4 linked regions of the Homo sapiens genome follow. The protein of the gene in region 1 purifies or fractionates together with the protein of each later gene. This does not show direct contact. Each region holds a gene or a part of one and is shown on either strand. Other genes may lie near its edges.

Region 1 (7,703 bases):
TGCTTGGTCTGACATGGGCCCCTCCGAGAGGCCACCCTCAGGCCAGTCTAGTCTCCCTCTCCAGGTGATGGCAGTCGTCTGCCAAACGTGTGTCTGGGCCCAGACTGCCTGGGCTCAAGTCTTTGTTTCTGTGTACAGTGCTTGCCACTTAGTGATGCAAAGTAAGCCATTGTGACTTGATTATTCACTTTTCCTGGAAATCTTTTTCCATTCAAAGCCTCCTGGGTTCCTTAAGCACATCTTCACATGTGGCTTTGCAGATCCTCGGCAGCCTACTCCTCTCCCTGGCCGGGGAGAACCGACCACGGCTTTCTAAGGATGTCCCCCACTGCCCCGGGCAGAGCGGGACTGAGCAGATGCCTTGTCTCCAGGCACTGAGAGGGCCCCAGGGCAGTTGCATTCTGTGGCTGGCTCCTGCCACTGAGACCCCCAGAGGGTTTCTTGCATGGCACTTAGTTCTAACTCTTTTTTTTTTTTTTTTTTTGAGATGAAGTCTCACTTTTTCGCCAGGCTGGAGTGTAGTGGCGCAATCTCGGCTCACTGCAACCTCCCCCTCCCAGGTTCAAGTGATTCTCCTGCCTCAGCCTCCTGAGTAGCTGGGATTACAGGTGCATGCTACCACGCCCAGCTAATTTTTGTATTTTTAGTGGAGATGGGGTTTCATCATGTTGGTCAGGCTGGTCTCGAACTCCTGACCTCGTGATCCACCCACCTCAGCCTCCCAAAGTGCCAGGATTACAGGCGTGAGCCACCGGGCCCGGCCAAGTTCTAACTCCTCGGCCAACCATTGTGGAAGCATGAAGTGCTGGGGTTCAAGTAGCTGCCTCCATTCAGGGCCAGCAGGCTGGGCTGTTGGCCAAGCACCAGCTGAACCAAGAGCCAGCTCAGCCATCATCCCCTACATTGCAGTCGGAGTCAGCTTCCTCCCGGTTCCTGTTTCTCCACTAGGAGCCCACTCAGCTGGGCTTCGGCCAGTGGACCTGGAGTCCCCCGTCTCCCAGGCACACCCTGTGTGTGCTGCAGCCTGTTCGCTCTGCCCAGGCCGATCCCTTTACCTGGCATACCTTTCCCCTGGTTGGCCTCTGGATCCCCTGGGTAGCTGGAGCCCTGGGAATCTGCAGTTTCTAGAGGTTTCTGGGGCACAGTGGCACAGACCACAGTGCAGGGACCAGCCTTGCCAGCTGGGGCCACCTCTGTTTGCCTGCCCTCCCTGCACAGCACGCCTCTGCCTGGCCTGGTTGTTGGTTCTAGGCTCACATCTGATGGGCTGGGGCCGCTGTCGGGCTCTCCCTCCTTCCCTTGGACTGCCTAACACAGTGCCAGGCGCACAGTAGGTGCTCTGTCACTTCCTGTTGAATATAATTGACGAGCTGACGTGTCTTACTGTCCATGATCATACCTGCTGGGATGGTAGCATTGTTGAGGATCAGTGATGACTGGCTTGAGCAGGGGTCTCCCACCCGCCTGAGAGCCCGTGGAGCACAGGAACTAGATCTTGTGCCCTGTGTCCCCAGGGCCTGGCACTTAGTAGGGGATCAGTAAGTGAGTGATTAATAGGGAGAGTGGGGTGGGGTTTGTGTGAAGCAAAGAACTGGTAAAGCTATTCTCTCTGAAGAGGCCAGGGACCTCATTTTCCCCATTAGGAAGGCTGGGTAAGCTGATGTCAGAAGCCCTCTGGGCAATTGCAGGCCTGGGTGGGGCCCAGAGTGGAAAGGAAGAGCAGGAACGGCCGCCACCAGCCCGGCAGTCAGGACATGGCCAGAGCTTCTCTTCTGCACTGCCTGGCTTTGTGATCTTGGACAGTTCCTTGCCCTCTCTGGGCCTTAGTTTCCCCATCTGTAAGTGAGAGGTGGGGTGCTTAGCAGAGGGCCTCTCCTGCTTGATGCAGGGTACTCTGCTGTTACTGTTGGCATTCCCGAGGGTGGGCACATCCCCTGGTTCACTCACTACCCACCTATTCTCTCTCTATAGAAAAAGCACCAGAAGCTCAAGCACCAGAAAGAGGCTGAGGAGGAGGAGCTGGAGATACCCCCTCAGTACCAAGGTGAGGCTTCCACTCCTCTCTCCTGGGACACATGGATCCCTGTCACCTGCATTAGGGAGGGGAGTCACAGGAAGGGGTGGCAGGGCCATGAGGGTGCACAGCCTGGTTGCACTCACTTGGCACCAACAGAGGTTGGCTGATATGACACTCAAGATGGGCCTGGAGTCTAAGGGGCCCTGGGGGTGTGAGAGAGCCTATGGGTTAGGAGATCTGTGCATGGAACCACCAGCCTTCTGAGGAGCCCTGAGCCACAGCTCCTTCCCACCCGCCCAGGCCTCCCAAGAGGCTTGAGTCTGTCCCTTCTGCGAGCTGCTTGCCTCTCTTGGTCACCCTAAGAGCACCAACCGAGTCAGGCTGGGTTTAGAGAAGCCACTTGGCCGGTGCCAGGGCTGGGAACTGGGAAGGTTGGTATTGGGTCTGGCCAGAGGGTTCCCCTCTATTTCTATCTCTGGGCCCACCAGCTGTTGCCCTCCTAGAGCAGCTGCTAGAAGTGCCAAGGTGGCTTCACCTCTGCTTCCTTCCTCCCAGGGTAGCCTTGCAGGACCCCTGCCCCCAAGCCCTTGCAGCAGAGCCCTTGCTTTGCATCTGGAGGTCCAGGGGCTCCTGTGGGAAGCCTCTGATTCCAGTAGCTGGTGTGTCCTCAGCCCTAGAGCATCATAACGCAGCTGCACAACCTCATGGCTCTTCCGCCTGTGGCACCCATGAGCCAGGGCCAGCTCACCTACTGTGCCCTGGGATGGAGTGATGCTGAGGCAGGAGTACCTGCCAATTGATGAGGCAGAGACCTGGGGTCAGGGCTGCTTGCCCAACCTCTGCTTAGCTGTTTGACCTTGGCCTGGTTACACTGTCTGTCTCTGAGCTTCTAGTTTCTCATCTGCAAAAACATGAGGAATGGGGGTGGTTCGTGTTGGTCGTCTCAGAGAGTCCTCCTGAGCTGGCATGGTAGGATTCCATCCACAACTTGTCGTTGAATGTTGAAGTCCAGGCTGGAGAAGACAGCTGACCTTGGGCAAGGATCTTGATCTCTCTAAGCCACAGTGTTCACATCTGTTACAATGGGTTAAATAGCTACCTGCTATCTCAGTGTTTGTGTGAAACCCAAATGAGATAAGAAGGGAAAGCCTAAAATGGCTTCTCTTACAGATGAGGTTAAGAGGCTTGCCTGAGGTTGGAGCTGTAAGTGGCAGAGCTGGGAGTTGAACCTGGCTGGCTGGCTGGCTGAATTCTGTCTGACTTTGGAGAATATGGGTTATTTTTTGTTAGTGTGTTAGCGGAGAATATATGTGTTCCCAGAGGTCTCTGGTAAGCTGTAAGGCTTCTGGGTCAGTCTGAGGAGCCCAGTGATCTAACTGTCAAATCACCAGACAGTCCCTCCTCGAGGAAGGTCTTTGTCCTGGTTTGATAGGGGACAGAGCCAAGTTCCTGGCCTTCACTCATCTGCTCCCTTGCAGCTCTCTCAGAGAGGGTGCCCATTGCCTTTCTGGAGGGGGCTGCCCTGGCTTTGCCTGACTCATGGTCCTGTGTTCTCCCCGTAGCTGGAGGCTCTGGCATTCATCGCCCTGTGGCCAAGAAGGCTATGCCTGGGGCTGAATACAAGGCCAAGGTAAGTGCTGCATGTAGGGCATGGGGTCTCCTGGCACTGGACAGGTGCCAGGGAGGGGCAAGGAGGAGCTGTGCCCATCACTGTCCTGAGAGGCACCTTCCTGGAACTCAACTGAGGCCAGGAAAGAAGAAGGGGTTCAGATGCTAAGACCTTGTGGCATCTGAAATGGGGGACCTTATTGAATGGCCTTCCAAGGATACAGGAGCTCTTTGGCACCACCTAAGGCAGAGGATGAAGGGAGGTTATGGGGCCTGTCAAGTCTAGGGCAGGGACAGAAGGGGAACCCCACCCTCCTAGCTGACTCTGTTTCTCTGGGCAAGCAGAAAGCAAAAGGTGATGTGAAGAAGAAAGGCCGGCCGGATCCCTATGCCTACATCCCCCTCAACAGAAGCAAGCTCAACCGCAGGTATGACGCTGTGCCAGGCAGGCTGGGGGCTGGAGGATGGGTGGGGATGAGGGAGCAGAGTGCTCTAAAGAAGGGAAGGCCTTATTAAACTCTCAGCTCAATTTGAGTCTCTTCCAGCTTTTTTTTTTAACATGCACCTATATCATGTAGCTGGTACCTACCTGTATTACTGACTTGAACTGCTTCTTTATTTTTTTATTTTTTTGAGACAGAGTCTTGCTCTGTCGCCAGGCTGGAGTGCAGTGGTGCGATCTTGGCTCACTGCAATCTCTGCCTCCCAGGTTCAAGCTAGTCTTCTGCCTCAGCCTCCCGAGTAGCTAGGACTACAGGCGCGTGCCACCATGCCCAGCTAATTTTTGTATTTTTAGTAGAGATGGGGTTTCACCGCGTTGGCTGGGATGGTCTCGATCTCTTGACCTCATGATCTGCATGCCTCAGCCTCCCAAAGTGCTGGGATCACAAGCACGAGCCACCGTGCCCCGCCCTGAACTGCTTCTTTAAACATGATATTATGTCATACAGATGTTTTCTGGTATTTACATACTCTACATAGTCATCTTTTTTTTTTTTTTTTGAGACGGAGTCTCGCTGTGTCACCCATGCTGGAGTGAGTGCAGTGGCACGATCTCGGCTTACTGCAAGCTCTGCCTCCCGGGTTCACGCCATACTCCTGCCTCAGCCTCCGGAGTAGCTGGGACTACAGGCACCCGCCACCACACCCGGCTAATTTTTTTGTATTTTTAGTAGAGACGGGGTTTCACTGTGTTACCCAGGATGGTCTTGATCCCCTGACCTTGTGATCTGCCCACCTCGGCCTCCCAAAGTGCTGGGATTACAGGCATGAGCCACCACGCCCAGCCATAGTCATCATTTTTAATAGCTTTGTATAATTTGCTTTTCTAATCCCTTTATTGGTAGGAAATTAGAGTTGTTTCCGACTTTGGCCCTTAAATTGGGTTATGTGTAGGACTGCTTTGGAAACTAATGTTACTAGGGAAATGGTGTTGTAAAGTTCTAGCTTCTGCGGGTTGTAAGTTACCTTTCAATGGAGGGATGGGTGGGCAGAGGGAGCTTTGACCTTCTCTGGACATACATTAGAGGAAAAATGGAAGGGAGGCCTGTTTCCAGGGGGATAATTGTGCCAAAGTGGAATGTCCAGGTCAGGACATGAGCCGTGTGGAAGCTGGAACCACGTGAGGTCTGCCTAGTTCATGTGCTGGCCACCACCTGGAGGCCCCCTTCTCATCCCTGCTGGCGCTGGGGGTGAGCCATCATTTGGCAACAGGAGGGGGCCTCCTATTCTCAGCCAGATGTGACCCTTCCGTTCCTTGGCCCTGCAGGAAGAAGATGAAGCTGCAGGGACAGTTCAAAGGCCTGGTGAAGGCTGCCCGGCGAGGTTCCCAGGTGGGACACAAAAACCGCAGAAAGGATCGTCGACCCTGAGGCCCAGGGCCCCTGGGCTGCCCTGTGGTCCAGTCTGAGGCCCTTTCAGCCCCCAGGCTGCCTTGCCACCAGCTCCAGGTGCTCAAGATTCTGGCAGAGCCTGGACTCAGGATGACTTGGAACTAGGGCTTGGCTCTCAGAAGTCCTGGATTTTGGAAACTCCAAATGGAATCACCCTTCAGAGACATCCCTGGTGCCTGGAGATGGGAATGTGGCCTCAGTGCCTCTGAGTAGGTGCCATGAGGCACCTTTGCTTTCTGCCCAGAGTGGCCATGAGCACCAGAACAGATGATCTCCATTTCCGCCAGCTGCCTGTAGCCACGTGGCATCCTGCCTGTGGTCTGGGTGAGATTTACTGTGACCAGATGTAGAATAAATGTGTCTCATCCTGCATTTTTTTTCTAGAAACTGTTTCATAGTCTGCCCCCTCCAGGGGTAAGAACAGTGTGCAGTTGTTGGCAGCAGTGGCCTGACCTCTTCCTGTCTAACTCCTTACATCCAGTCCAGGGCATATCATAAGGCTTTGCCCATAGGACAGGCTTTGGAACTTGCCCGGGAGCACCCACCTGTGTCAGGAGGGGCAGCGAATGCCCCAGGGCTGGTGTCGGGAGCTGCAGTTCAGCACCAGGGACTGCCCCAGCTGTCCTGGGCACAAGTCTCTCCAGCATCTTTGTTCATTGATTCAACAAAGTATTTGCTGAGCCCCTCTAAGTGCCCAGCATAGCCTTGTTCATTCACCTCCGTGTCTTCCCACATTCTTTTTTTCCCAGACAAGGGGATCTGTTTGTGTAATGTGATTCACTGGGCCAGCTTTGTTGGTCTGGAGCAGAGAAGGGCATGGCACAGAAGTCCTGAGGTCACTGTCCTGTCAGCCCAGGTCCCCTCATGTGGATACAATCCCACAGGCAGCCAGAAGCAAAGAACCCCAGCACTGTTCCCACACCCCAGTATGAGTGTGCTTTGTGCCCTAGCACCTGACTGATACATTCTTCCCATCTCAGATCCTCCCAACGTGAGGCGAGCACATGCACACATTCCTCGTTTCCATTCTAGTTTAAGGCACTTGGCTCTGATAATGGTCCCAGGAGGCCCTGTGCACCTCCTGGCAGCCTGTCCCACCACACTCTTCCACTCATTATCTAAGGGGACCCAAGTCTTAATTGGATCTGGCGCTCCCCAAATTAGGGCATTTCCTCCCAATGATTTGGGGCTAGGAAAAGCTGAAAGGAACCACACTCGGCCCAGAGGTGGCACTGTTTACATGCCTTGTTCACAGAAATCTAGAATTGGAGAGCAAGCAAGAAAGGTGGTCAGGAGTGGCTAGGAGAGATTTGCAGAGGGGATCTAACCATACTCCCCGTTGTTACACTTCTGGACACAAGTTGGGCCGAAGTAAGCCAAGCCCAGTCCTTCCTGTTTCCTTTCTCAGGAAATGTGACCACGTGCACTGGGAAGCTTTGTGTAAAGTAGATAGGGGTATGAGCCAATTGCCCAGCATTGGTGTTTTGTTTTTTGTTTGTTTGTTTGTTTTCACAGAGTCTTGCCCTGTCACCCAGGCTGGAATGCAATGGCGTGATCTCAGCTTACTGCAACCTCTGCCTCCCAGGTTCACACAATTCACCTGCCTCAGCCGCCTGAGTAGCTGTGATTACAGGCACCCGCCACCACGCCCAGCTAATTTTTGTATTTTTAGTAGAGACAGGGTTTCACCATGTTGGCCAGGCTGGTCTCGAACTCCTGACCTTGTGATCCGCCCACCTTGGCCTCCCAAAGTTCTGGGATTACAGGCGTGAGCCACTGCGCCCAGCTTATTGGTGTTGTTTGTTTGTTTTTTAAAAAAAGGCCAGGCACGGCTCATACCTGCAATCCCAGCACTTTGGGAGGCCGAGGCGGGTGGATCACCTGACCAACATGGAGAAACCCCATCTCTACTAAAAATACAAAATTAGCCAGGCATGGTGGTGCATGCCTGTAATCCCAGCTACTCGGGAGGCTGAGGCAGGAGAATCACTTGAACCCGGGAGGCAGGGGTTGGGGTGAGCTGAGATCGCATCATTGCACTCCAGCCTGGGCAACAAGAGTGAAACGCCATCTCAAAAAAAAAAAAAAAAGAAAGCGTGAAGCCAACCTCCTTGTTATATATAGCACATTTTCCAAGGAACTTTGTTTTCTTTTAAAGATGGGAAAGGCAGGTGACCTAGAAAGGT
Region 2 (7,703 bases), on another chromosome or scaffold:
CAATCTTATCACTAGCAGGTTCCAAACTCCAATGATACAAAACCTGCCTGGTGATAGGGGAAGGAGCTGTTTCTAGCTTGAACTCTTGTTTTTTTTTTTTTTTTTGAGACAGAATCTTACTCTGTCACCAGGCTGGAGTGCAGTGGCACAATCTCGGCTCACTGCAACCTTCGACTCCTGGATTCAAGCGATTCTCCTGCCTCAGCCTCCTGAGTAGCTGAGGTTACAGGCATGCGCTACCATGCCCAGGGAATTTTTGTATTTTTAGCAGAGACGGGGTTTCACCATGTTGGCCAGGATGGTCTCGATCTCCTGACCTCGTGATCCACCTGCCTCGGCCTCAGAAAGTGCTGGGATTATAGGTGAGAGCCATTGTGCCCAGCACTTGAACTCTTGTTTCAAAAAATCATCTGTGGGGGAATGCAGAGCCTGGGAACAGACTCAGCCCCACCCTGGCTTCCTTTCTACCGGGCCACCAAGTCTATCTGTCCCCTCCTTTTCTACCGCCCGCATCCCTACTCGGTGCATCTCCCAGGAGAAAAGGCACCAGCAGGTTTCTCCCATAGAGGACAGTGGAAGGCCCCCCCCACCAACCCGGCCTGCGCTCACGGTCACGCAAGAGTGGGAAGCAGCTTCTGTTCCCAGCACCCTCCCTGTTGATGGGAAACGAGGGGGTGCATTAAGGACTCTGAGGAGAATAAAAATAAAATGTCAAGTTGATGTGGCCCAGAGGCAGTCAGCCACAAGCTGTGAAAAGCCTTTGAAAAGCTTATTTGGCTGAGAGAGCGGCTCAGCCAGGAAAGCCTGGGTGAGTTCCAGGAGCTGAACCACAGGTGCTGAGGGAGGGAGCCCGGGGTCAGCAGGAGCGGCCCAGGCAAGTGCTGGGGACGAGGGCGCTGGGTCCAGTCCCCACCTTCCCACTCAGGCTTGTCTCCCCTGCTTACCTGTACTGTTTGGACCCAGCGATGAAAATGCGTTCTGAAAAGGTGGGGCTGAACTCTTGGCTATTCTCACCTAAAGCAAAAGGAGTTGGATTAGCAGAGAGGAGAAAAAATAGGAATTTAGCACTTAGGGGAGAGACATTTTACAGAGATCCCCTCTGGCGCCTCTCCTTCCCCTCCTTTCCAGACAACCCCTGTCTGGCAGTCACCTCCCCACCAATGCCTCCTTCCCGCACTGTCTCTCCCCAGCTTCTCAGCTTACTGGTCAAGAGCAGACCACGGCCTCAGCCACCTGCTCTGAAATAGCCAAGCCTATATTATGGGGATCACAGGGCGCCCGCCTCACTTCCTATGAAGCTGAAGTGAGATGATCTACAGAAAATGCTCAACACAGTGCCTGGCTCATAGGAAAAACAGCTATTAGGTATTTATATATGTGTGTACATATAAGTGTGGATATATGTGTATTTTTTTAAAACAATTATTATGTCACTCTCTGTATTTTAGTTTTTATTCTCTCATCTCTCCTCAAAAACCAACCAGGAGGAAGTGGGAGACGAGGGCAGGATGTATGCGTGTGGAGAAATGACAGCATGGCTGTCCAGCTCTCCAGGTTCCACCCCAAGAAGCCTCCCGGGTTGAGGGAAGGCGTTGGAGAGAGAGGACTCCCGGCCCTACCCAGGCCTCGTGGGAGTTTCTGTCTCCAAGGGAAGCCACCATTACTAGTCATCATAAGGTATCATGAGTAGAAGAAGAAAGGACCAGACTAGGTCTCACCCTGCAGCAGCCTGCCGCCCCAGGACTGGCCCAGCAGGCTCAAGAGCACGGTGCTCATTCCTGGGGGTGGGGCCACCTCTAGGTGGAAGATGGTGAAGGCCCTACAGGCCCCAGTGGGGCTTTCCAGGAGACCTGGCCTTTCCTGTCTGGAGCCTCTCCAGACACTGGGGCTGCTCAAGGTCACAGCAGAAGGTTGATGGCCTGCTTGATGATTCTGCAGAGTCCCGAGTGCTCGTCTGTTACCTCTCTTCCCCTGCTCCAGTCACGATGGGCACAGTCTCCCCTTGCCACATCCACCATCTGTGCACTTTTACAACCCCACTTTCCATGATTCTCGGCACAGACCTCTGGTTGTGTCTCATGAGAATCTTATCTAGCAGTGACACAGACCTCTCTCCTCCATAGGGAACCCCTGGGCCCAGCTACCCACCTGCAGGCCCACCCACCTGCCCCGTGCCCACAACAACCCTAGGCCCCTACACTCAGCCTGGGCGATGATAGAGATGGCAGCTGGCCCTGCCTCGGAGCCTTCCTTGGCTGTGCCCTTGGTAATCACGTCATTCAGGATCTCCCACTTTCCGCAGAACACAGGGCTCTTCTCCACGGCCTCAAGCTTGTAGACGGAGCTCTGTTTCTTCCCCAGTGGCGGCGTCTTCTCCTTGGCTTTGGGGAGTTCCTTCTGCTGCCCCACTGCTGAGCCAGGGGCACCTGGGCAGGCCATTTCCATCACTGCCATCTCCCAGGCTTGTGCTCATCCTGAGAGAGACCAAACACAGAGCAGGTCACTTAGAATCCCAGACCTGGGAGAACACAGGTCAGCCTTGGGTTGGGGGAGAAAGGCAGGGGCAAAGGGTCTCTGCCTGTTTATGTGTGCCTCTGCCACACATACTCATCCTCCAAACATCCTCAATGGTAACAGAGTCCACCTCTCAACAGCTACACGTTCCACACGGCACAGTCCCCCGGTCCTCCCAGTACCACAACATAAACAGCCTCCTTCACTGTGTCCAGCAAGGATGCCAGCCCACTCCCTCTAGGAGAGCTGTGGCACAAATGTCTGGGTTGGCTCTTTCTTGCCTTTATGATGGCTCGATCTTTTTCTGTTGTTTTATGGCAAACTTTGTTTCCCCAGGACAGGGTGGTGAATCCCAGACTCCAAAACCATGGCCTCACTGACCCCACATAAGCCTTTGGAGAGGACCTGTTGGCACACACCATCCACAGCGACTTTTCTCCAAGTGGAGAGAAGCAAGGTTCTATTCTGTTCCCTAGTAGGAGGTAGATATCTGTGTGTGTGTGTGTGTGTGTGTGTCCTACAAAGTCTAAAACTCAGCATGCAAATGGTGCTCAGCACGTGGTTCCTTGCCCAATGCGTCTGTTTGTGGCTCTCCAGAAGGAACTAACATGCTTCCTCCTCTAATGTCCAAACTCATTGGCTGAAAACTTCTAGGTATCATTTTTCATTCAGGCAACATCAGGAGTAGAATTTATATTCAAGGCCCTAACACGAACCTATACCTCTAGAAATAAAGAATAAAGCATAAGAATTCACGTCTCTCTGGGTTCTGTCTTGCCCAGCCCTAGGAAGCTGCAAAGAAGAGCAACCCAGAGTTGCCAACAATCTGTGCAAACAGCCTGCAGACTGGAATTGGCAAAAAAGAGAAGAGCACTGATTTGAGACTGTTACCATTTGGAAACCTTTTTAAAGGCTGGGAGTTTTTAAAGGGCAGGGCCCCTCTCAGGCATGACTTGCTTTAGAAACAGCCTGAGAAGGTCCCAAATGCAGACAGATTTTTAATAACTGCTCTCTGATGGTAGGTTTGTCTTAAAGCTGCTACCAGCAGAAATCATCTTCCTTGCTATAACTCTGTGAACCCTGGATCACTTCTCTGCTTCTGGGGCAGACAGGTACACCATCTGAAGCTGAACTCTAAGGCCTCTGGCCTTTTGCCCTGTGAGGCCTGAGGACTGAATGAGATGGTGGGAAGCTGAGGTACTAGGTTGAAGCATTCCTCCTTCTGAATCTGCCTCACTGGTCTTCCCACCTCGATGGCTATGAAAGGCTCTGCCAGCTTGGCTGGCGGGTGTGGTGGGGTTTGTTGTTCACTATTGATTAGTTCCTTGCATCTCTGTCTTTAAGGGTCTCCTAGCTCTGAACTTGGAGCAGCTCCAGCTTCCTGCAAGGATGCCTGGATTTGGTACCAAACGCCAGATGCTGAGGAGGCTGAATGGGTGGCCTCACTGTTACCTGAGGATCTTAAGAAGTCTGAGGGGGCCGGACATGGTGGCCCATGCCTGTAATCCCACCACTTTGGGAGGCTGAGGCAGAAGGATTACTTGAGCCCAGGAGTTCAAGATCAGCCTGGGCAACATGGTGGAACCCTGTCTCTACAAAAAAATACAAAAAATTAGCTGGGGTAGCTGGCCTGTAGTCCCAGCTACTCTAGAGGCTGCGGTGGGAGGAATGCTTGAGCCCAGGAGGTTGAGGCTGCAGTGAGCTGAGATTGCACCATTGCATTCTCCAGCCTGAGTGACAGAATAAGACCCTGTCTCTAAAAGAAAAAAAAAGTCTAAGGGGTGTTCTGACATCCAATTAGGCAAAAGCCCTTCAAGGCTGGCTATGCTTCTTGTAACTGTACTTTCATCCCACCTCACACCTCCCCACCCCACTCTACCTCCAAAAAAGAAACTGACCTAAGCCCAGAGCCGATCCCACTGTTCTCAGCCTCTTTACCAGGGGAAATGAGATCTTAAGAACAGACCAAAAAGTCTCCAAACCTAACAGCAGTAGGGAATGCTCACAGGGAGCTCGATGTGAGCGTGACCTCCTCATTTCTATTTGAAGAAGCTGAGGCCTAATTCAGTGGAGACTTGCCCAAGGTCACCCAACCCACGTGTGACAGGACATGGCCAGGATCCAGACCCTAGGTTCTTTAGGCTATGATGCCCACTCCCCAAGCTCCTGGGTTACAGGCAAATGCAGGAGGGCACACTAAGGTCCTCCCTGGTCAACAGGCTCCTGAGGGAAGAGGTGGGGCCCTGCACACAGTGCCTCCCCAGTGTATAGCACAGGGGCCACAGACCACGCAACTGACGCTGGCTGAACGAGGGACTCAAAGGACAAAGATTGCTTTTCCATAACCTTTGGAGACAGGATGATCCCGAATGCTGAGGAGGAAGAGAGAGTCCTGCCTGATGAATGAGAAAAATGAGGCCAGGTGGTGCAGTTGCTGCTCTGAGGGGCACGTGGCTATTAGAGATCTGGCTGTGTGGGGGCTCTGATAGCCTGTCTCCGCCTGGCATGGCCCAACGGAGGCTTCTGGATAGGTCATCCTGAGCTAGAACTCCTCCAGAGGGGGTGCAGGGCATCCCGAGTCCCAGAGTTGTCCTTTCATATTGGTGTTAGGTAGGCAGCTGTCCAGCGCCCCTCTGTGAGCACACCAGGCTCCCCTCTTCCCAGAGAAGTGGAAGCTGAGGCTGAGGCAGCCACGCTCAGAGACTCCTTTGCAGTTCCCCGATGACTCATCCAACAGCCTGGCAGGCAGACAGTAACAAGGAGGCTGTTGAGAAGCTGACCCAGCAGATGGCAGCTGAACTTGTGAAGGACATGGGGAAAACAGGCTGACCCTCACCTCTCAGGGGCACAAATCACGGCCTGGGAGCTGTAAAGCTCCTCCTGTGGCTGGCTTTTCTGTGCCACATCACCATGACTCAGACCCTCACCGACAGCCTCCAAGTTCAAGAGGCTATTCTTGGGACACTTTGGCCTGACAGTGGCTCTCCCCAAACACCACCTCCCACACAGACACACATGCACACACACACATGCACACACAGACACACACACATACGGATGCACTTGCTCCCTCCCTCCTTTCCTAATTCTATCTGGACTCTGGTCTACAAAAATCATGGTTCTGTACTAAGTCCAGGACTACTGGCCAGGGGGCCTTCCCAGCCCTGGACTTTGGTCTCTGGCTGTCACCCCAGCTCATGGCCCTAACACTTTGCCCCTTCTCCCTCCTGCAGCGTGTGGGGAGGACGAAGTGGGAGCCAGTTATGTCTCTGCCTTTGAAGGCAAGTCAAACTCCTGATTCATTCCTCAGCCTAGACACTCTCCTCAGCTTATTCACGCCCCAAAGGCATTGGGCCCTCTACTCTCTGCATAAGAGTTGAGGACACGAGCAGTGGCAACAGCCAAACCCACATGGCTCACCCATAAGCCCAAGAAATCAGAAGAGGAAAGGAAAGGAGCAGAATTCACTCCATATTCTTTGAGGCCTGATGCACAGACACTGTTGGTTCTTTCTTCTGTGATGCCTCAGTGACCTCCTGGAGAAGCCTGGGGGATAGGAATGATCTGGACAGTACCAGATCAACCTCTGGGCATAGCTGTATGAGGAGTTCTTAATCTAGGTTCAAGGATGGATTCAGGGAGAAAAATGTAATTTGCATTTTTCCAGGGAAGACTTGGTCCATAGCTTTCAACAGATTCTCCAAGGATCTGCCATTCCCCAGAAGGTTCCTCTAGTCTCCCTAGAAAATCAGGGCCGGGCTAAATGCCTGATTCTGGCTCTATTCTTCCACTCCGAGGAAAAGCTCTCCAATGCAGCAGTTTCCAATCTGACCACAGATTAGAATAACCAGATAAGTTCTTTAAATGCATTCCTCCTAGGCCTGCTGAACCAGTCACTGGGCATTAGGCCCAGAATCTGTACTTTTGACAAGTTCTCTGGATGATTCTGATGCCAAAGGGCCAGAGACTGCCACCTGACCCCTGCTCTGTACTCAAGGCGACACTGTCCAAAATGGTAGCCACTAGCAACATGTGGCTATTTACATTTAATTAAAATGAGGTAAAATTTTAAAATCATTTCCTTGTTACACTAGCTACCATACTCAACAGTGCAGACAGAGAACATGTCCAGCATTGCAGAAAGTTCTATTGGACAGTGCTGTTCTGAGGTGATGAGAGCGGTGTTTTCTCTGACAGTAAAATTTCTGTTCCTAGGATTCTGGGGCAGGAATGGGGTTTACAGTAAACAAATTTTTGATTCACTGGAAGATACAAAAACAATGTTTTAAATGTTAATCTTCACAGATGATAACCTTTTTAGAATATATCATATTTCATTCAGTTCCCTGTTTTAGCAAGTACAACATAGTAAAAATTCCAGACTGGGAACCAGAAGCTATGGGTTCTAGCCTTAACAATTTTTTTTTTTTTAAGAAGAGCAGTGGGACCATTTTTGTCAAATGAAATCATACCTCATCTCCCAATAACTAAAAGAACCAGATGCATGCAACTGGCATGTAACTCACATTTGAACCCGCTGCCCTGGCTGAAGGAGCTCCACATGCTCAGTGTCCCTTCATCCACCGAGGACCTCTACAAAATCCCTAGTTCTCCAAGAAAAGAGTTTGGAAACCAGCGGCCTAGGAAATCTTTTGAGGTTCCTTCTAGTTCTGAGAATGTAGCCCATCTGTCAGGATTCTTTGAGGGCTGGACAACTCCAACTCAGAATACTAACTGTCGATACTTACAAAGTACCTACTGTCATCTCATTTTCAGACATGAAGATATGGCTTAGGGAAGTGTAGTAGCACACCAAAAGTTACGCAGTTGCAGGTTGCAGAGGTGGGGTTGAACCTAGACTGCTGCCTCCTAAGCCGACATCTAAACCTTGAGCTAGCCACTTCTTTTAACTTCTCTGAGTTTCTTCTCTTAGCTCCTTCAGAGCTGTTTTGAAGACCGAATGAAGACGAGTACATGAAATGCCAATCAGGTTGCCTGGCCAACAGAAGAGGCTAAATGAATGTTCATTCCCTTGTCTGTCACCAGGCTACTAAAAGCCATCACTGAGAAGATGGGACTTCTCTGTTTCAGCACCATATAGCCAAGGTATCTTGAGCCTTACCTAGTTCATGCAATGCTTGGAGCCTTGATTCTCCATACACGAAAGGGAAATAAAACTCTGTCTTACA
Region 3 (7,446 bases), on another chromosome or scaffold:
CCTGAAGTCAGGAGTTCAAGACCAGCCTGGCCAACATGGCAAAACCCTATCTCTACAAAAAATACAAAAATTAGCTGGGCATGTTGGTAAGCCCCTATAATCCCAGCTACTGAGGAGGCTGAGGTACAAAAATCACTTGAACCCATTAGGCAGAGGTCGCAGTGAGCCAAGATCACACCACTGCCTTCCCGCCTGGGCGACAGAGCAAGATTCCATCTCAAAAAAAGAAACAAAAAACAAAGATTTAGAACTCCTTTCAGCATTTCTTATAGTGCTGGCTTGGTAGTGGTGAATTCTCAGCATAGATATCTCTCCTTCATTTAGGAAGCTTAGTTTTGTTGGATACCTTTTAAGGAGACTAAACACGTTGCCACACGCTGTTCTGTCCATCCATGTGGGAGCTGCACGTTAGTCCTGTCCCCTTATCCGCCATTTTCCTCCTCAGCACAGCAGATCAACATGTTTGCCTCTTTGTTTTGTTCTCTCCAGGGCCCCAGCAGATTGGATGGTGCCCACTCACATTTGAATGCAGATCTTCCTTACCTAGTCCAGAGATTCACATGCTAATCTCTGCTCATTCATTTTTAAACCATTCAATTATAAAAGCCTTGCATTTTTCAGACACCTGTTATCTTTTTCTTTTCTCAACCATTATTTGCCATTTGACCCTTGCAATAATCCATGCTCCTTTATTATGATACGAACTCTTCTTTCTGCTAATTGTTTTTTAACATTTTTAAAAGTATTATCTTACAAGATTCTGCTTCACAGTGTAACACAAGGTGCTAATAAAAGAAAAAAGTGCTGTATCAGGTGACAGTCTTAAGATTTTTGATAAAAATGTAGAAAGCACTGTACATACTTTGCCTCCAGTGCCTCTCTGGCTTCTGCTTACTGCTAAATACTGATGACTAAAAATAGATCTGCAAAGTTAAATAATAATAATGTTTTAAAAAGTTTCATGCGCGTCTGTATGAAGAGACCACCAAACAGGCTTTGCATGAGCAACAAGGCTGCTTATTTCACCTGGGTGCAGGCGGGCTGAGTCCGAAAAGAGAGTCAGTGAAGGGAGATAGGGGTGGGGCCATTTTATAGGATTTGGGTAGAAAAAAGGAAAATTGCAGTCAAAGGGGGTTGTTCTCTGCCTGGCAGGAGTGGGGGTCACAAGGTGCTCAGTAGGGGAGCTTTTGAGCCAGGATGAGCCAGGAGAAGGAATTTCACAAGATAATGTCATCAGTTAAGGCAGGAACAGGCCATTTTCACTTCTTTTGTGGTGGAATGTCATCAGTTAAGGCAGGAACCGACCATCTGGATGTGTGCGTGCAGGTCACAGGGGATATGATGGCTTAGCTTGGGCTCAGAGGCCTGACAAAAAGTTTCATTTACATATTGGTAGTAGTCTTTCAGAGCCTCACGCCTACAAAATTTTATCAGCTCTTTCAAATACTGCTGTCAATTTCTTAGTCCTGTAATAACTATGATTTAACTGATACATATTTAAATTATAACACGTTATCTTCCAGATTTTGTCTTCCCTTGAGTATCTAAGATCATGTTTTAGTATTAGCATAAGATGAGATATAGGCAGTTTTTCTCAAAAGCATCCCACAGAAAAGTGTTGCTTTACTTCAAGTTCTACTGAGCCTTTTATTAAAAGATGCTGGTAAAAGGAATTTGAGGAGAAGAAAAAAATTTTTTAATGTTAAAAAAGATGCTCTGAGCTTGTTTCAAATAGTAAAGTACTGTTTCAGAAGACATTAGCCTGAAAGGATTTCAGATCTCAATTGATAATAGTTTTGGATGCAGATTAAAGAATACCCAACAGAATTGACTGAAACAAAAAGAGGCAAGGAATTTTAAACAGATTTATTAATTGATTCAGATTTATTAATTTACTAATTGATCACCCTACATTTACAGGTGTTAGAGTAGATATCCTTAAGAATAAACATACCTTATAGAAACTTTAATCAGCCTGGGCAACACAATGAGACCCCATCTCTACAAAAAATCAAAAATGGCTGGGCGCAGTGGCTCACGCCTGTAATCCCAGCACTTTGGGAGGCCAAGGCAGGTAGATCACAAGGTCAAGAGATCAAGACCATCCTGGCCAACATGATGAAACCCCATCTCTACTAAAAATACAAAAATTAGCTTGGCGTGGTGGCATGCACTTGTAGGCCCAGCTACTTGGGAGGCTGAGGCAGGAGAATCGCTTGAACCCAGAAGGCAGAGGTTGCAGTGAGCCGAGATCACGCCCCTGTACTCCAGCCTGGCGACAAAGCGAGACTCTGTCTCAAAAAAAAAAAAAAAAAAATCAAAAATTAGCCAGGCATGGTGTTACATACTTGAGGCTGAGGTTGGGGGTGGGGGCGGGATAAAAGAAACTTTAAGAAACCAGTACAGTACAGAAGTGCCTACTCGTTGAGGTCACAGATACATCACTACAGGATGAATAAAACCCAAAAAAAACTTCCTAATGCATGCAAATGTGTATTATACAGCTGTTAAGTAACATACATATCACCTTAATAAAAATCAAGATGAAATGTTTTAGAAACTATTTTATCAAAAGTGGCTCTGATACAAAGACTTGTACATGATTGTTCACAGCAGCACTATTAATGCCAAAAAGTAGACAAAACCTAAATGTCCATTAACTGATAAGCAAAATGTGGTATATCCATACAATGGAATATTATGTAGCCCACAACATGGCATGGAGTACTACAACATGGATGAGCCTCAAAAACGTTATGCTAAATGAAAAAAGTCAGATATAGGAAACCACATGTCATATGATCCCATTTATATGAAATAGCCAGAAAAGGCAAGTCATAGAAACAAGATAGATCGGAGATGGGTTGGAGGACTACAAATGGCACCAGGGATCTTTGAAGTTGATGGAAATGTTCTAAAATCAGACTGTGGTTGTGGTTGAACAAGTCTGTAAATTTACCAAAATGCGTTAATACACTTAAAACAGCTGAATGTTATGATCTGTATTTAGTAAAGCTCTTTTTAAAATATGGCTCTACTACTGCTAGAGACATTGATATCAAAGATGCAGAGTTTGAATAATTGTTTCAGGAAAAGTTTATATATTCAGTACTACAGATAAGTTTTTTTTTTAAAGGAGAACCTTTTTCGCTGTTATAAACAACTTCATTTATAGCATAATAAACATACTTTCAGTCAATTTCTTTACAATCTAAAGACCCCTGAACTAAATTTTATGTTGTGTCTTAAGTATTTCAAAACCCATCCATGTCAAACTGATAATTTTACTATTGCTTGATACTATGTTATTTCCCTTATGGGTAAAACTTCGATCAGTGGCCAAATCTGAAAAGCAAGAAGACACTCTTGTCATCTGAACAGTTCTATTAGGATGTTGTTAGCTTTTTGAAAATATTATATACTAACTCTTAAATTATATTTAAATGCCAGCTACCCAATGGTGCCAGAAGATTATTGCAATTGTTTTTACCCAAGTATAATTTTTAAAATAAAATCATGTTGCATTGCATTTTTCTAAAATCATTAGATTTATAATTGAATAATGTAGACTTACAATTTTTTTTAGGGCCAAGAAAAAAGAAAAGAAACTTAAATGATTCCAGCCTATTTGTATCTGCTGAAGAGGTAAGGCTAATGTACTGTTTTAACAAGCTAGCTATTCTACATTATTTTTAGTTTTCTAATAAATTTATCGTTTTTGTTTAAAAGTTTGGCCATCTATTGGATGAAAATATGGGATCCAAGTTTGATAACATTGGCATGAATGCCATGGCTAACAAAGATAATGCAAGTAAGTAACTTAAATTTTTTTATTGATGTTTTAAAAATAGCTTTGGCTTGGAACTTCAGAAGATAGGAAATTTTCGTTATTTTATTTATTCTTTTTTTTTTTTTTTTTTTTTTTTTTTTTTTTTTTTTTTTTTTTTTTTGAGACAGCGTCTCACTCCCTTGCCCAGGTTGGAATGCAGTGGCATGATCTTGGCTCACTGCAACCTCCATCTCCCATGTTCAAGTAATTCTCCTACCTTAGCCTCCCAAGTAGCTGGGATTACAGGCATGCACCACCACGCCCAGCTAATTTTTGTATTTTTAGTAGAAACAGGGTTTCACCATGTTGGCCAGGCTGGTCTCGAACTCCTGACCTCAAGTGACCCGCCTGCCTCGGCCTCCCAAAGTGCTGAGATTACTGGTGTGAGCCACCATGCCTGGCTGATAGGAATATTTTTGAAAGACCTTTTCATGGTACTTTACAACCTGAAAGGAATGGCTTTTTCTTCTCTCAGGAGAACATGTAAGATTAACAAGTATTTAGACTAAAGCAAAAAAAAAAAAAACCTTGCAGACTACAAAAATTACTTTTTTTTAGGGAAGTGGGCCGTTTTTACATATTGATTGTTACTGGTTTTTATTTCACCAGTAAAAGTGCTTGGGGAGAGAAAATCTTTAGAGCATTTGTTTCTTTTCCTTCCTTAGTCATTTCTTTTTGAAACATTTATCTTTGACAATAAATATGAGAAGAAAAGCAACAAACAAGCAGTGGGTTTGTATAGTGGGTGGGAAACCACAGGCCAAGGCAGGCTAGAAGTTCCTGTGACTCAGCAGCATGTTCTGTGGGACCACCAAGAGTCTACAGTGTGGTAGTACACTCATCTTTTCTTCTTCTCTCAAAGGTCTCAAACAGCTTAGATGGGAGGCTGAACGTGATGACTGGCTACACAACAGAGATGCAAAAAGTATCATCAAGAAAAAGAAACATTTTAAAAAGAAGAGGATTAAAACCACTCAAAAAACTAAAAAACAAAGGAAATGAGTTATTAATGTAAATTATAGATTAAAATTCTACTTACATCTAATTTTTGCTGTTCAACCATGTTTTTTGATCTAGCTCTCTGATTCCATACATTCCAGACTTCTCAGTGGATTTGTAATAAACTATAAATAAAAATAGCTCTCATTTATAAAGTCATGTGGAAGCATTGTTAAAATTAAATGTATTGAAAAAAACAACTTCTTTTTTCCATATTGCTACATAACAAAATGAAAAAGAGGACAGTAGGATTACAGACTTCACATATAAGTCCTGGCATCTCTGATCATTGTAATGAGCACTATTTCGTCTAACTACATGATGTCATCTTGTTCAGTCTTTATCTACTTGACAGAGAAAGAGACAGCTCCAAGAAGTTAGCAAACCTGAGATGAAACTGATCTTTTAAAACCAAAGGTTTAAACTGTGGTTTGATTCTATCACCTCATATATGAATGATTCCAGAGTTTACATTCTTAACCACTAGAAGAATTCAGAATCCAGCCCATTACCTAATTCTCCTCTCACTAGAATAGATGAGAATTTAGTCTCAGAAGAACTAAAATACATGTGAATAGTATTGTTAGAAATTCCTTGTAAAGAAATTACTACATAATTTATAGGTTACCTGAAGAAGTTGTTTTATACTTATTTTTACTTAAGGAAAAACATACCTTCCAAGATGAAGGGATATTTCTTGCTCATTGTTTGCCTGAAATCTGATGGAAAAAAGGATGTCTTGAAATTAGATATGAACAGAAATTCATTATATTAACACAGCCACAATTTAATGCTAGCTTTAGGGTCCATATGATGGGAACCATATAGATTAGAAATTTGTTTGAAGGTCTTTCTGGTAATCCAGGAACGATCTCCTTTTGTTTTTTTGAGTCAGGATCTCTCTCCCTGTTGCCCAGGCTGCAGTACAGTGGCACAGTCACAATCCACCACTGCCTAGACCCCCCTGGGCTGGGCTCAAGCGAGCCTCCTACGTCAGCCAAGGTCAAGTAGCTGGGATGGGGCTCAGGGGAGCCTCCTACCTCAACCTCCCGAGTAGCTGGGACTACAGGAGCACACCATCATGCCCAGCACTTTTTTTTTTTTTCTTAAGATACAGTGTCTTGTTATGTTTAGCCCAGACTGAGCTCAAGCAGTCCTTCCACCTTGGCCTCCCGAAGTGCTGGAATTACAAGTGCAAGCCATCACACCCAGCCATGACACTTTTTAAAACTGATCCCAAGCTTTAATTTGTTTTTAAATACTGTTGGGATGTTTTTTTAATACCCTTCCTTAGAGTTTAAAAGAAAAGGGATTTTTTGAGTATCCAGTAGCATCTTGGTACAGCGTTCCAACCAAGTATGCTGAGGAAGACTGTGGCAAGTTTCAAAGATGGCTATCATGCCAGGTCTATTCCCTGTTTTAGGGAAAAATCACTTCCTAATTTAAAAAGTTGAGAGCTCTAATATAAAATTTCCCCAAGAAAAATGTTAAAGCACTTTCGGCCATAGCATGTGAAAGTCTTAGTGCCCACTGTTGATGCCCAGGAAGAATACTATAGCCTGAGAAAACTGGTTACTCAGAAAACAGCAATACCAGTTACTTTCTTAGTCTACCAAACAATGAAGTATAATGGGCAGGCTAAGTTTCCTCCATCTGTGCTCCCAAACTAAGCCAGACCAAGGACACTTGCTATATCCTCCACAATAGTAAAATCCATGGAGGTATGAAATTTTTTCCTTAGCCCACAAACAACATTTTTAAGGGAGAAGTGAGAGTGATCTAGTCCACAATAATGAATACTTTGATTCCTGTTCTGCCCCTAAAAATGTCTAATATCTTGAATCTGAAGAACCAATTTCTCCAAACATGCCATTGCCATTTAACACATAAAATGGATTAGCAAAACTATACCCCTTTAGAAAGCATTAACTTCTGAATTATGATTACCTTGGCTTGTGTGCATCTTGCTAAACAAAAAATATGCTCCAAAAACGCCTACAAGTTCGGCTACCAAAACTCCTTTAAAGATCTTCTTTGCTAGTGGTTCCAAAGTACGGGCCATCCTAAATTTAACAACAGATATGTGTAAACCTGAATGAACATACTTAAACTACTATTATCATTTCTCTAATAACTCAAATTCATTCCCACAGTTTGAATGGCTTCTCTGTATGGGAGTAAGACCAATACTATGGTATACTTTTTTGGTTTAGACATCCTATCTACCTAGTTTTCAAACTCCATGCCTGAGGGGCATGATGAACCAAAGACAAAATTGGATAAAGCACAGGAAAGAGAGAAAATGCAAGAAAGCGTTGTAAAAAGAACAATTTACGGAACTAAAATTATTTAATTGTGTAGGAAAACAGAATGGGGAAGATAATTTTTTAGCTGCACTGGGAGTTAAGAAATAATCTAAATGGATACAATATATAAACAGCTCTTTGTAAAGTGCCGTACAAAAGTAAGATCTTTCTCAAGTGGTTCTACACTTTCTAAAGGGCTGGAGTTCTTCATTTATTAATACAACATACACTATTACATATACTATATATTATAGATAGTATAGATATCCTATATACTGATACATACTAATAATACAACATATACTAAACTAT
Region 4 (7,703 bases), on another chromosome or scaffold:
TTTAGTAAAACCTATTAAAATTAATCAGAGTTTGCTCAACTGGCTAGATCCAGGATACATAGTCTCTGCATTAAAAATCAGCCACAAAGGAACAAAGAGAACAAAATTACTTTTTAATCCTTCTTGGTAAATGATACAGACACTCTTGTTGAACAAATAAGTGGATGTGCTGGAATTAATTGGTCCCACTCTTTGGTTCATTCTTGAGAGGTGATATTGTAGAGTTCTGAATGGCTGAAGAGGCTGTTTTTACCAACATCCCTGGGCAAGTTCCTCAACTGCATGTGTTCTCAAAGAAGCTAACATCTTTGTAACCTCTTTTTACAATTTTTAAATTTATTTTTGAGACAAGGTCTCACTCCCACACAGGCTGGAGTGCAGAGGTGCTATCATAGCTCACTGCAGCCTCAAACTCTTAGGCTCGAGCATTCCTCCTACCTCAGCCTCCTGAGTAGCTGGGACTACAGGTGCATCACCACACCTGGCCTTTTTTTTTTTTTTTTTTTCCAGACAGGATCTTGCCATGTTCCCCAGGCTGATCTCTAACTCCTGGCCTCAGATGATCCTCCCAGAGTTCTGGGATTACAGGCGTGAGCCACTGTGCCCAGCGTCATGTACCTTTTCACTGGTGTACTGGATATATGGAACGTGGACCCTCCAGGCATTAATCTTCTTTCTGACAATCACAGACCCAGTGAGGAGCAGAGCCAGGATTTAAACTACATCTAATAATTGTGTCTAGTGGGTCAGCTCCCACATGTGCAGCCTCTCTCCCTGCCTTCCTCTTCCTGTCTTGCAAGCACAGGTGGGGATACACAGTATTTAAAGGTAAATGCTGGCATACTTGTAGACCTTTTTAACCAGAGTTGGCCACCACACTCTCCTGCCTTTCTTAACCTTGGTACTCTCCCTTCAAGAGATGGAGTTTAACCCCCTTCCCACTGAATCCGGCTGGCCTTAGTGACTGGCTTGTAAAGGATAGACTGTCCTGGGGTGACACCATGTGACCTAGGCTGGGTCAGAAAAAGCCATGCTGTTTCTGCCTAATACTGTTGGAACCCTGGCTCTTTGGATGAGAGAACCTAACACAACTGAACTCAGCCTTAGAGCCACCTCAAGCCCAGGTGCCAGCCATGAGATGAGCCATTCCATACCTTGGAATGGACCCACTGGCCTTGTACTTTGTAGTTCCAATCAGCTCTCCCATACCCTAGTATGTTCTCCCCCTTTCCTATTCCTGGGTCCCTTATTTTCCCAGACCCAGCTCAAACCATCATCTCAGTTCCTGAAGCCATCACTAAAACTTTGGACTCACCCCTCAGTCTAGGATTTGGAATCTGGGAATTTTTAGTTTACCAGGTTCTAATCTCAAGGGTCCCATTCTTTGGTTCATTCTTGAGAGGTGATATTGTAGAGTTCTGAACAGCTGAGGAGGCTGTTTTTACCAACTAACGTCCCTGGGCAAGTTCTTCAACTGTGTATGTTCTCAAAGAAGCTAACATGTGCCATATTAAAGTGCTGAAATGACTAGAAGCAACATAGCAACCACAAGCCCTGTGCCCAATGTGTGAATGGCAATAGGGCTGCTGGTGTACCACCATCATTCTCCAGGCACATGGGCTCAAGGTATCTACTCTGGTCCTGTCTCCAAGGGTTTTTCACTTCTGCAGAGAAAGGAGGTACTCTCATCCTAGATGGCACGACTGCACCTCACCCTTGTTGGCAAGACCCAAGGGTTCTAAAGAGGCTATGCAGAGTAGCACTCAACCAGTGTCTTGAACCTAAGTATTTTTGATCCAGAGTTTTATGTTAAATGTTACATGGAACTCAAGAGCAAAGGTGGAGCCTAGAACAAGGAATGGAGCGGGTCATATACTGTGGGCTATGTGACCTGGAGAAAGAATGTGAACTGTGGGCAAGTACATGCTCTAGTATTGCCAGTGTCTTTTTGCTTAACTTAGTGATGGGCTCCTGGCCAGAGCAGTTGCCTTCCTTGTGATAGTCTCTCAGGAAAAATGGAAACACAAACCAAATGAAGCTAGGCATGGTGGTGCATGCCTATAGTCCCAGCTACTTGAAAGACTGAGCCAGGAGGATCTTTGAGCCCAGGTGATCCTTTGAGCCCAGGTGTTCGAGGCTACAGTAAGCTATGATTCTACCTCTGCACTCAAACCTGGGTGACAGGATGAGATTCTGTGCGAAAAATAACAAAAGAAACATGAATATTCCCAGGAAGCCCCACACTTGCCTGGGGTTTCCAGCCCTTTGGGTTTAAATTTTCCTTACCTCCACCTAACCATATCATGACAACCCCCTAAGGAGCAGAAAGATTCAGTCATCCCAACTCACATAGTATCTTGTGCCCAAGGTGCTGCAGCCTTGCACAGAATCTTCTAGAACTATCTGATGATCTCCTTCCTTGTGTTTTAATGTTGCTTAAATATTAATCATTACTATAGAGATATTTAAGCAGGCAGGAAATACACAGGTTCTACACAGACATAGATCAATAGTTTATTTATCCACATTATCTTTTAATCCTTAATTCATACACATAAATACTGTGGTACTGTGGATGTAATATCAGTGCAGATTATTAATTACCTGGCTTTTTAAAGTTATTATATAACATTTTCAGATTTTATTAATCTCACTTTTAATGACTAAATGAGTGAACAAACAATATCAAGTGAATGGGAAATCTTTTTTCCAAATGATGTTAATAACTCCTCACTCATTTTCTTATTTATTCATTATGTGCTGGGCAGTCTCCTCAGTTGTCCTTTGGTTTTGGGAATGTCCTCACTCAATACTTCCCTTTCACATTCAGTCCTGATTCACAAGCAGGCCTGTGCATGTTATATTGCAGGGTCAAGCTGAAAAGGCAAGGTTTCTTCAACTGGCTTGAGAGCTATGAGGTAGGCTGTTTCTTCTTTCGCTTTGTCCTATTGTGGGTTCTCTGGTGCCCAATAAGGTGTGAGCTCTGGGTGAAGGCCTTTCCACATTTGTTGCATGCATATGGGCGCTCCCCGGTGTGAGTCCTCTGATGTCTGATGAGGTGGGAGCTCTGGCGGAAGGCTTTTCCACAGTCCTGACACTTGTAGGGCTTAGCGCCAGTGTGAGTCCTCAGGTGCTGGGAGATGGCTGAGCGATCATTGAAGGTCCTCCCACACTCCTGACATTCAAATGGTCTCTCTCCAGAATGAACTCTCTGATGCTGTGTGAGGGAAGAGCTCTGAACAAATCCTTTCCCACAGTCTTGACACACATAGGGCCTCTCTCCGGTATGGATTTTCTTATGCACAGAAAAGTATCTTGGGTTCCGGAATATTTTACCACATTCACTGCATCGGCAAACTTGGCTCCCCTTGTGAATTCTTATAAACGTAATCTGTTTAGTACTCCGACTGAAGGTTTTCCTACAACCATTGCCTTCCTTGGCCTTTTGCCTTTCACAGCTCTTCTGATGAATTTTTACACGTGAATTATGTTTCATACTTTTAACTTGTGAGTCACGTTTGCGCAATCGTTTTCTAGGAGGAATTTTGTGGAGCAAAACTTGGTTTGTGTCAAGAGCGCCACTGTTTGCCTGGGACTCAGGGTTGTCAATTTTCTGGAGCGAAACTTGGTTTGTGTCAAGAGCACCACTGTTTGCCTGGGACTCACGGTTGTCAAAGTGCTTCTTCTGAGGAAGGTCTTTTTCCTGAGCAGACTCCATCTGCTTCAACACTGTGTCTTGGACTTCCTGGACCCCACCCTGCAAGGTATCTTCTAATGTAGAGGACAAGGCACAATCCCTTGAGGATTCTTGTACTTTCAGGCTGGGGGCTGGTTCTTCCTCAGGAATGTCAGAATTTGGAGCTAACTCTTTATTTTCCAGTGTAGTCTCCCACCCTGAAAAAAATAAACAAAAGATGTGGATCCCATAGAGAGATGTGCTGGGATGGGTCTGAGAGCATGAAATGCATAATTAAGTTCAAAAGTCAGGATTTTTTTTTTCTCCCAAATAGAGTCATGCAACCTGGAGAGAGACTGAAAAGCAATGAAGCGGCAGGGAGGGGAGCACTGACCTTGGTGAACAAGGGACAGGAAGGGCAGGGAGTGTCCTCCGAGCTCTTCGAGTTCCTGTTCTCTCATACTCCCTCAGGAGATAGATAGCAAATCACTCCTTCACCGGACCTAAGGCTGCTTCTGGCCACCCAGTGACCTCACCCCTCTAGGTCTACAGTTCCACTTACAGGCCCTGGATGCAGCAAGGGCCCCTTGAGGGAATGCCCAGTGTGGAGTCTAGAGAAGGTGAACACCCCTGACTTGGGGCTCCTGTGGCCTACCAGCCCTGAGGTGGGTGAAGAGGGGGCACAGCCTTACCCACAGAGACCAGGTGCCCAAAGGTCTCCAGCATCACATCGCGGTACTCGGTCCTCTGTGTCGGGCCCAGCAGCCCCCACTCCTCCCGGCTGAAGTCCACAGCCACATCCTGGAAGGTCACTGGCTCCTGTAACATCACATATGTGTCTATGCTCAGCAAGAGGGTCAGAGGGTTGTCAATGAGGGCAGAAGAAAGGCCAGCTGGGAGGTTCTGACAGAGCTCACGGTGCTAGGGACTCTCCTGCTTTGGGGATTTGCTCAGAGACACCAACCCAGGGCCCACAAGAGTTCTACTGGGTCCAAACCAGGGTCTGGGTCTCAGGCTGGGAGGCAGAGCCCTTGCTTCATAAAGAGCTCCAAGTGCAACAAGCAAACAACTCCATCCTAACCACGGCTCTATCCAGCTTGCCCATTGCTGAAATCTTCCCACTGCAGAGGGTTCTCCATCTATTAATACTGTCTTCCCACTTGGTGGAAATGACAACCAAGCCCCTGCCTTTGTCGACAGGGCTGACCTGGGGGAGGGCAGTCACCCTGGCACAGCCATGACTGGTCCTTTCTGGGGAACTGACCAGGACTTTGGGAAGAAGAGGTACCCCCAACGCTGCTTTGCCAGGATCTGAGGCATTTTGCTTACATGGGGCAGAATCTGCCTAAGAAGAAAGGGGAGTGGCCACGCGCAGTGGCTCACACCTATAATCCCAGCACATTGGGAGGCCAAGGCGGGTGGATCACCTGAGGTCAGGAGTTCGAGACCAGCCTGGCCAACATGGTGAAACCCCGTCTCTATTAAAAATACCAAAAATTAGCCGGGTGTAGTGGCAGCTGTCTGTAATCCCAGCTACTCAGGAGGCTGAGACAGGAGAATCACTTGAACCTGGGAGGCAGAGGTTGCAGTGAGCTGAGATCGCGCCATTGCACTCCAGCCTGGGCAACAAGAGTGAAACTCCATCTCAAAAAAAAAGAAGAAGAAAGGGGAGAAAGCAGAGCCATGAAACAGGTTGGCCAGAGATTCTTCCCATCACCTGGGAGCACCTGGATGCAGCCTTGCCTGAAGCCTACCAGAGAATACATGAGAGCCAATAAATTGACTTCTACGCTTGAGCCAGTATAAGCCATTTGCAGTGCAAACAGGTCTGACCAATGACACATACATACCACTACCCCAGTGGTCAGCGCATCAGGACCAATCTTTTTCACCCACACCCCAGCTCTGGGTTATTCTGAAGCAAATCCCAGATACCAAAGATAAATACCTAAGTATGCATTTCTGAAGGTTGAGGGCTCTCTTGTTCTGACCTGGATACAGATGTGCCTGCCTGTGGTAGTTCCACCTCTCAAGTCTCTGTAAACACTTAGTCCCTTCCCTCTTGCCTCCTGCTTTCTCAGCTCCCGGGTCACCATGCGTTGTCTCCAGTGATGCCACAGTGGCTGGAGGGCAGGGCTGCTCTTCATACTCAGATTGCTTCAGCACAGACCTAAGAGCTCAGAATCTCAGAATGTCCCAGCCTGTGGGAGGTCTTAGGAAAGCCCAGGGCAGAGTGGATGCCTCAGGGGTGGGCCTGCCTCACAGGAGATGCTGTGACCAAAACAGGGTGATACTCCCCGCTTACCTCAGGGAGCACTGTCACTGGGCAGATGGCTGCATCCTCCTGCTTCTCCTCCTGCTGGGCAGTGACCTCGAGGCAGCAGGTGGTGCCCTCGGCAGGTTGTCCTGCAGGAAGTACTGGGAGGAGACACCAGCCAGAGGAGGTCAGCAGGTGTGGGGACCCTTAGGCAGGGCAAGGGTGGCCTCTCTGCAACCCATGGGGCCACCGCACCCCTGCATCGTACTGTGGCTCCATGACAGCCTCTGCTCCTGTCCTCCCTTCCCACCAGCTCTGCTCCCCTCACAGCACGTGCCCGAGTGCCCACACCTGGATGGGCCCGGGATGGCTCACCCTCCAAGGGTCACAGGGCACCAGTGTCCTCACTGCTGAGACTCTGGTCCCACTCCTTCCCTTTCCGGGGGCTGCTGAGGGCCCCAGCCCCTCCTGTGAGGCAGCTGACTGACGCCCCCTCCTTAGAGTCAAAGCCCCTGTTTCCGGCCTCCAAGCCCTGCACCCTGCCTATTTGGGCACCTCTTCCTTCTTCCCTCTCTCCTCCCACCTCATGGAAGGTGAGACTTTCCCTGGACCCATGAAATGCAGCCATCTTGAGGTGAACGTCACCAAGTCTCCTCCACCTAAGAAAACAACAGCTCCACCTGGCCCAAGGGCCCCTGTAACCACGGCTCCTTCATTCTAACCTTCCTCACATGACCCCAAATGGTCCACAGGCTTCCACAATGCTAATCTACCCCCACCATCAAGGTGGGCCACAAGATGACTTAGGCTGGCACACTGGACCATCCCTTTCTCTTGGCCACAGTGATTAGATCTGGGATGAACACAGCCTATAGCCAGATGATTGGAGCCAACAAGGCCTTAGTTGGAACATTTGGGAAAGAGAAATCCCATGCAGGGAGACAGCCTGCCCATGATGAAGCCAGTGGAGGGCAGAAGAGGTAAGAATGAGGGACAGGACAAGTCTGGAGGACACTATTGGAGCTCCTGGGTCCAGCCCTGCCTGATGCTCGAGCACCCTGGAACTTTTCCAATAAATTCTCCTTCTCCCTTGAGCCATTCTGTGCAAGGCTTTGCAGCAGTCACACTCAAGCGTCCCAACTAACACACTGATCACATAATGTGAGATTCTCAGGGTTCTCTGGAAAGCCTCTTCCCATTGTCTTCTGTGGCACTAATTTATTTTATTCACCCCTGAGGTTAAACACAGGGTGAATTCACTGACTTTCACCTCATTAACCCCACAACTGTCTCCTTGGCACCTAACTAACTAGTTTCCTATTGCTGTTATAGTGAATTGCCACAATGCCAGCGGCTCAGATTAATGCAAATGTATTACCTTATGGTTCTGGAGATGAGAAGTCTGGTTTGTGCCTCACTGGGCTAAAATGAAGGTGTCAGCATGGCTATGTTCCTTTTGGAGGCTCCAAGGGAGAATCCATTCCTTGCCTTTTCCAGCTTCTAGAGGCTGCCCCAAACATTTGGCTTATGGCTTCTTCCTCTATCAGCTGCTCCTATCATTACATCTCCTCTGACCCTCCAGCCTCCCTCTCCTAAGGGCCCCTGTGGTTATGTTAGATCCACTCAAATAATCCAGTGCATCTCTCCCTCTCAAGATCCTTAATTGTTTCTGCAAAGTCCCCTTTGTCATGTGAGGCAACTTATTCACAGGGTCCAGGAGTCAGGACATGGACACCTTTGGGGCAATTATTCTGCCAAGTACAGCACCCC

The links.
Region 2: the proteins of RRP12 (region 1) and MAP3K14 purify together in Homo sapiens (tandem affinity purification; one large-scale study listed by IntAct). This does not show direct contact.
Region 3: the proteins of RRP12 (region 1) and CEBPZ purify together in Homo sapiens (affinity purification with mass spectrometry, with the first as the bait; one large-scale study listed by BioGRID). This does not show direct contact.
Region 4: the proteins of RRP12 (region 1) and ZNF274 purify together in Homo sapiens (co-immunoprecipitation; one large-scale study listed by IntAct). This does not show direct contact.

What each region holds. Positions count from the first base shown.
Region 1 is NC_000010.11:97,354,887-97,362,589, reverse strand, and holds the end of RRP12 (RRP12-like protein), read left to right. Parts: intron 1-1,971; coding exon 1,972-2,044; intron 2,045-3,579; coding exon 3,580-3,647; intron 3,648-3,970; coding exon 3,971-4,053; intron 4,054-5,393; coding exon 5,394-5,496; 3' UTR 5,497-5,889; downstream 5,890-7,703.
Region 2 is NC_000017.11:45,288,292-45,295,994, forward strand, and holds part of MAP3K14 (mitogen-activated protein kinase kinase kinase 14), read right to left. Parts: intron 2,475-7,703; 5' UTR 2,455-2,474; coding exon 2,199-2,454; intron 1,015-2,198; coding exon 945-1,014; intron 1-944.
Region 3 is NC_000002.12:37,199,149-37,206,594, reverse strand, and holds the end of CEBPZ (CCAAT/enhancer-binding protein zeta), read left to right. Parts: exon of another isoform or gene 1-543; intron 544-1,851; exon of another isoform or gene 1,852-3,586; coding exon 3,587-3,645; exon of another isoform or gene 3,646-3,729; coding exon 3,730-3,811; exon of another isoform or gene 3,812-4,691; coding exon 4,692-4,831; 3' UTR 4,832-4,870; coding exon of another isoform or gene 4,871-4,953; 3' UTR 4,954-4,983; downstream 4,984-7,446. Other genes in the region: protein CEBPZOS, read right to left, coding at 4,871-4,953, 5,503-5,547, 6,776-6,890. UniProt on the Homo sapiens protein: Stimulates transcription from the HSP70 promoter.
Region 4 is NC_000019.10:58,208,352-58,216,054, reverse strand, and holds the end of ZNF274 (neurotrophin receptor-interacting factor homolog), read right to left. Parts: intron 6,095-7,703; coding exon 5,982-6,094; exon of another isoform or gene 5,625-5,981; intron 4,496-5,624; coding exon 4,369-4,495; intron 3,895-4,368; coding exon 2,912-3,894; 3' UTR 2,493-2,911; downstream 1-2,492. UniProt on the Homo sapiens protein: Probable transcription repressor. Specifically binds to the 3'-end of zinc-finger coding genes and recruiting chromatin-modifying proteins such as SETDB1 and TRIM28/KAP1, leading to transcription repression.